Regions from separate parts of the Homo sapiens genome. Here region 1 is linked to region 2. The links come from fine-mapping of genetic effects on gene expression. A gene starts in region 2. The other region holds a variant in brackets. All regions are shown on one strand. Distances are from middle to middle.

Region 1 (2,904 bases), 61 kb before region 2:
TCAGGTGTCAACCTTCAGCATGATGGGAGAGCCATGGGACCCTTCCCCTTTCCCTAAGAGAGCCAGCCCTCACAGCAGGCCTGGGATCCAATGCCCAGCACCCAGCTGGGAGCCCAGGGACCTTGGCCAAAATCTGGTTCTGCTTCAACTTGGTGCCCGGCCTTTGTCAAGTCACTTCCTCATTTGCAAACTGGGAGAGTTTGGATGAAACTATTGAATGAAATTATTTTGGGGGTTTCTTTCTGGCTCTCACAGTCCTCGCATGCTCACCATGTTCCCTTCAATTTCATTAGCACAGCCCAACAAAGGGTTAAGCAGTGGCAGTTCCTCTCGTTCTTTGGTTAGGACAGGAAGGTCAGGGGTGAGGCCAATACAAGAGGTAGCCGCCACAGCTGATGCTGGAAATGACAATAGTTCTTTCCTAGACTCATATTTGTCCCCTCTCCCTGAAGCTTTGCCTGCAGTGCCCTTGTAAAGAAGTTGGCAAGAAGCAGGAGTGAGGCTCAGCCCCTCTCTGAAATGGATACGCCGGTTGCTCCCCCTCATGGCTGGTCTCATTTGCCTTCTTCATTTTTAGACACATTCCAAACTTTTCAGCAAATTATAGTGTTTGCCAACTGGCCGTCTGGGGCCCAGGAGAGATGCTATTTATAGCGATGCTGGGATGCTGCCATCCCAGAGCAGCCTGGTAAGAAACGGAGCCAGAGTGCCTGGGAGTGGCGTCCTGCACCCTGGGGAGAGGCCAGGGCCCTGGAGCAGGGTGGCAAAGCTGGTGGCCCGTGGCAAGGACCACTGGCACATCCCCTGCCTGCCTGGGCCCTGGGGTCTGTGCCCATACCCCACACGGGGGGCTGCTTCCGTGCTCCTTGGAGAGACGATGGTGCTGTGGGGCCACTGAGCACAGTAAAGGCTAAGACCCACCATAGGTCAGCCCTTGCTCATGCTGACTGTTGCCCCATTTCCCTTCATTCTCTCACTCGTTCATTCCTCAGAATCTGCATCCTGGTTTTGTCACTACCTGGAGTTGTAAAGATACCACCAAGCTCACCTTGTGGTGTGAGCCTTGATTTTCCCCATCTGTGTAAAGGGTGGATCTGAGCTCCAAAGTTCCTTCTAGTCATATGCAGAGTGCATAATAAATGTGTTTGTATTCCCACTGTGCTCAGTGGGCACTGGGGCATGCAGAAGAGAAATTGGAATAAATGTGACCCTTGTCCTCCAGAGGCTCAGTACCAGACTGGAACCAGGACCCAGATGAGGGGCCTACCCAGAGAGGGCAGCGTGCTCTCCTATTTGTGTTAGGCGTTACCATTTACAAAGGGCTTTACGGCTTTGAAGGTCCCCACAACGCCCTGAGGAGGTGAAGTGTGGCAATGCCCGTTCACTTGGGAAAATACTGCATCTCAGAGAGACCAAGGGACTCGCTTAAGGTCACACAGATACAGTAAGTAAGTAGGGAAAGAGCTGGGGCCTCTGGGCTCCTTTTCCGGGGCTCTGGCCTCGGTTTTAACCCGTTCTCCTAGACCTCTCAGTCTCTGGGCCTCCCCTCTGTGTTCCCCACCCCCACTTTCCATCAAGAGCTCAGTTCTCTTAAGTTCTATATTCTCTCTTCCCCACCCCTAGAAATCTCTGCCCGCTTCCAGAAAAGGCTTTGATTCC[G/A]TCATTTTTGGCATTTCCCACCCAGGAATCAAGGCTGCCTCCTCTGTGAGGAAGGCGTGTGGAAGGCGAGCAGCTGAGGACACCTCTTTTTAAGAGAAGCTTCTCCATGTTCTTAGCCAGGTTATATAACTTCTTTTGCTTCTTTCTTTTCCACATTCTACATATTTTTCACAATGAGGATGTGTCACTTCTATAGTTAAAAATGGAAATCTTCATTTAAAAGAACAATCAGACACAAGGCAAGGTATGCTTACCTTCCCAATGACCAAGGAGCAGGGAGACATTGGTCGTGGAGGCCATAGGTGACCAGCCTTGAGGGAAGGGAAGGAAGGGGAGGTGCAGGGAGGCGCAGCAGAGGCACCCGAGTGTGCTCTACGAATGTAAGTCTGCCAGCTGCTCCTCTGTGCCTAGCACCCTGGAAAGCGCCCGCACACAGTGGGCCCTCAGCAAACTCCCACTGAGCAAAGGGCCCTGTGAGTAAGGACCTAGAAGCAGGGTGTGCTTGAGGCATGGGGTGGGAGGGCATCCAGCTTGGCTGGCGGTGGGAGCCGATGCAAAGGTGAGCTGAGACCAGACGGTAGAAGACCTTCAGTGCTGGGCCGAGGAGGGTTCCTTCATCCCATAGAGAAGAGCTGCCATCCAAGACAGAAGGCTGGGGAGTGACATGTTGAAATCAGTATCTTAGGAAAATAAAGCCACTGGCTGGGCCACTGGCTCCCCTTTGTAGAGGGGTCTACGAAGCTCCCGAGGTTTCAGATAGTCCCTGAGAGCCCTTCCCCTCGCGATGGGCTCCGTTTGAGGCATGTCCAGTGTGAAAGGACCACAGGCCACCTGAGGGACAGGACCAAGCAGAGAGCTAGTGACAGAATGCCCAGGGCTCCAAGACAGGGCTGGAGAGGTGGGAGTGGTCCCCACCTTGAGAGCCAAAGGGGCTGAGGGCTGAGGGTTGAAGGCCGAGAGCCAGGAAGGTCCAGGGGAGCAAAAGGGGGAGCAGAGGGGGAGCTGGAGGTGTTGGGGTGGTGGGTAGAGAGCCAAGATAGGGAGGGGACAAGAGAGGGGAGAATCTCAAGGAAAAGCAGGAGCATGAGACTGAGAGAAGGCCCCTGGAACACTGGCTTGAATGTGGCTGACATTGGCACTGCCAGTACTCATCCCAAACCAGGGAGCTCAGCCAGCGCCCTTTCTGCATGTCCGCTCTTTCATCAGACAGCTAGGAACAAGTTATACGAGATGATGTCCAAGTCC
Region 2 (2,904 bases):
TTGAGCATGTGGCTTCCTCAGGGGCTGTGGCCTCTCGTGGGAGTCCAGCAAGGTGGACATTTTGTGTTTGGGTTCCTTACAGCCCTTCAGGCAGTCGCTGGAGCCCAGCTGACCTTGCCTAGAAGGGGAGCTGTGGGGGGAGGCGCCCTTGTCCTCCATTTTGAAGACGGAGGGTCCTGGCTGGCCTCCCATGCAGTTGCCCTTTTTAGCACCCCATAGTCCCAACAGGTTGTGAGGCGGGGAGGGCTGGGGTCCAGGAGCCTGGGCAGTGGACTTCTCTGCCACCTGGATAATGGCCAGAGGACAGGGAAGCTCTTAGTCTGAAGTGTCATTTCAGACGCCCCCATGGCCTCAGGATTCCTGCCAATTATAGAGCCAGATGCACACTGTCACCTGGGCTTCTCTGTGCAGGCCTGACCAGGAACCCAGGGTTCCTCTTCCTTCTCCCTCCCCTGGAATGAGGCAAGGTTGGGACTGGGGTGGCTGCTGAGGACAGATGTCCCTACTCCTGCACAGAGGATGCTGCTCTCCCCTCCAGGGCCTGGACTCAGCTGCACCCATGTCAGGGGCTAAAACTGTGCCGAAAACTCCCATTCCTTCAAGTGCCAGCTCCCTGGGCAGGCCGTGGGCAATGCACACTGCAGGGGTGCCTCTCTGGCCTTCCTCCCCACTGCTTTGTGGAGATCTGTCCCCCACACCCCCCCACACACCAGGGCTATCTTGCAGTTGGATCAAACCAGGTTCACACCTCAGCTCTTCTCACTACCAAGTTACTGAGTGCCTGGAACCTGTTTCTTCCCCTTCGAGCTGGGGGTTCACCTCCTGGGGATTCCATGATGTGGGTCTGTGTGGTGGGGACAGCCACCACCAGCATAGAGTGTCCGGTGCCCCACAGGTGCTGTTCTGTGGATGGGAGGCTCCCTTACCTTGTTCCCTTCCCAGTGGTACCAGCAGCTGGACGTGGCTCCTATATTCCCAGGAGGAGATTCTTTGAAACCTTTTCTTTTCTGAGCCCCTGAGCCTGTTCTGATGCCCTGATGCCATACCCTCACCACCCCAGCGTCCTCCCTGCCCTGGGCTCTCACCAGCGTCTGTTGCCTCATGCCTCTGCACCTGAATTTGAAGGCTGCACCAGCGAGCCATTCTTCCCCCACCTCCAGGCAAGACTGTTCCTCGACCAGTGCTGGCAGAGGCCAGCAATCTTCACTGGGTCTACCCCAGTCTTCCAAGCCTCCCAAAGAGAAGTTTCTAAAACCTCCCCAGGATCTTTTACTAAGAATTCTCTCCTCCACCCCATACCTTTGGTCTCAAAGGGGTGGTGGGGAGGCCGCCCTCCGTTCTCCGCCCGGTTCATGGTCTTGTTGTTCTCCAGCTCCGGTGGAGGCTCGGGGTACTCTCCGAGCTCGGGGATGATTTCCGTGGCATCATTCTTGAACGCCTGCCACCCCTGGCCCTCCACTACACGGAAGGCTGTGTGTACCAGCAGGCAGACGAGACACAGGGCCAGTGGGAGCTGCATGGTACCAGCCAGAGGAGGGCACGCCACCTTCCAGTAGCACAGGCTCTGGTCTCCAGCCGAGACACGGTCGCCTTTTTAAAGCCCCTCTCTGCTTCATGCCAGCCAATGAGGACAGGCTGGGGCAGGGCTGGTCCCATGTTTCCCTCAGCCCCGGAGGGAGGGAAAGGGGTGTGCTCAGAGCAAACCCTCCCCAAAGACTTCTCCTCTAGCTCAGCAAACTTCCAAATTGCTGCTGGCACTCCCAGGTGACCCAGAGAGAGGGGGCGTGTGAGGCAAGGCCCAAGCCTGCTCTCCGGCACCTCCCACGTGCTGGCGGCTGTGGTTTTCAGATATCAAAATGAGCTCCGGCTTTTAATTGTCTGTCTCCCTGGGCCCTCGGGCATTCTCAAAACAAACTGTGGACCCGCTCAACAAAGAAAATGTGCAGTTCTGAGTGCTTCGCGGGGCTGAGCCCGGCCTATTCCATTTCTCAGGCCAAGTTCATTTGTCACCCCACCAACAAATGGCCCAAGGCGTTTCTGTTTGACCCCCATAGACCCAGCCAGAGGCAAAAAGATGCTTTTAAAGAAATCCCATTGGTCCCAACTCCACAAGTCTCAGCATTCATTGTCCTAACCAAGAAAGCCTCTCTTGGTATTCTCTGGAAGGCAAGAGAGAGAACTAGAGGGTCAGAGCAAGGGTGCCCGCTTGGGAGAGAGGGCAGGATTCTGGTTACAAATCGAGGATGCGCTGGTCACTCAGGCTCCTGTGGTGGACAGCACAGAGGAAATCCCAGCTCATGCTCCTCAGGGATCCTGTGCACTGTGACAGGCACTTCTGAGCCAGGGCACTCACTGTGGCTCGCAGGGTGATGTGCTGAAGACAGTCATTTCCCCAACCAGTCTGTGTGTGTGAGAAGACAACACCAAATTCCTTTCCTTAGCAAAAGCCACAGCCAGCGTTTTTAGTGCTGACATTTTATTTTCTTGTCTTCCAGCTGGTTACATTTTTCAAAAACAGTTTTGAGTCCTGTATGGAAAGCTTCATTGGTGCACACCACAGGATGTGTTCCATGAAGCCATCCCAGGACCAAGTGGTCACAAAGAAGCTAAGAGAAAATGCTGCCTTGGCCCTGCATATAATGAGCCACACAGGGCCGGGGCGGGGGGCGGGGGGGCAGGTAGAGGCGTGGGGGAGAAGGATTCACACCTGAGGTGCAAGAAGAGAAAGGAAGGCCAGAGGAATCTTTCATTGAAGACAGATTGTTTGAGGACAAGCAGCTCCTGTGAAGAGGCTGCCCAGATCCTCTGGTATTTTAACTGGGCAATGAATCAGCATGCCCCACCTGCAGAGCCTCTGCAAGTCCTTTGCCACCTGCCTCAACTTGCAAGTCGCTGTGTCCATCT

Alleles and levels. Alleles are on the strand shown, and positions count from the first base shown. SD is a standard deviation of normalised expression in the study named.
With allele G in place of A in region 1, the expression in prefrontal cortex of the gene that starts at base 1,569 in region 2 is higher (moderate effect, 0.48 SD a copy in GTEx).

The links. PIP is the estimated chance that this variant, and not a neighbour inherited with it, causes the effect.
Region 1: its variant is fine-mapped to the expression of SOST in prefrontal cortex (GTEx, PIP 0.96).

What each region holds. Positions count from the first base shown.
Region 1 is chr17:43,696,016-43,698,919 of GRCh38, forward strand. The region is part of intron 3 of LINC02594 (long intergenic non-protein coding RNA 2594); the gene reads left to right. Among named protein-coding and RNA genes, the nearest start is that of LINC02594, 33 kb to the left of the region's middle. The variant G/A (reference allele first, on the strand shown) is at 1,660.
Region 2 is chr17:43,757,223-43,760,126 of GRCh38, forward strand. SOST (sclerostin) reads right to left here and starts at 1,569. Exons shown (of 2, transcript NM_025237.3): 1 at 1,300-1,569. The coding sequence starts at 1,519.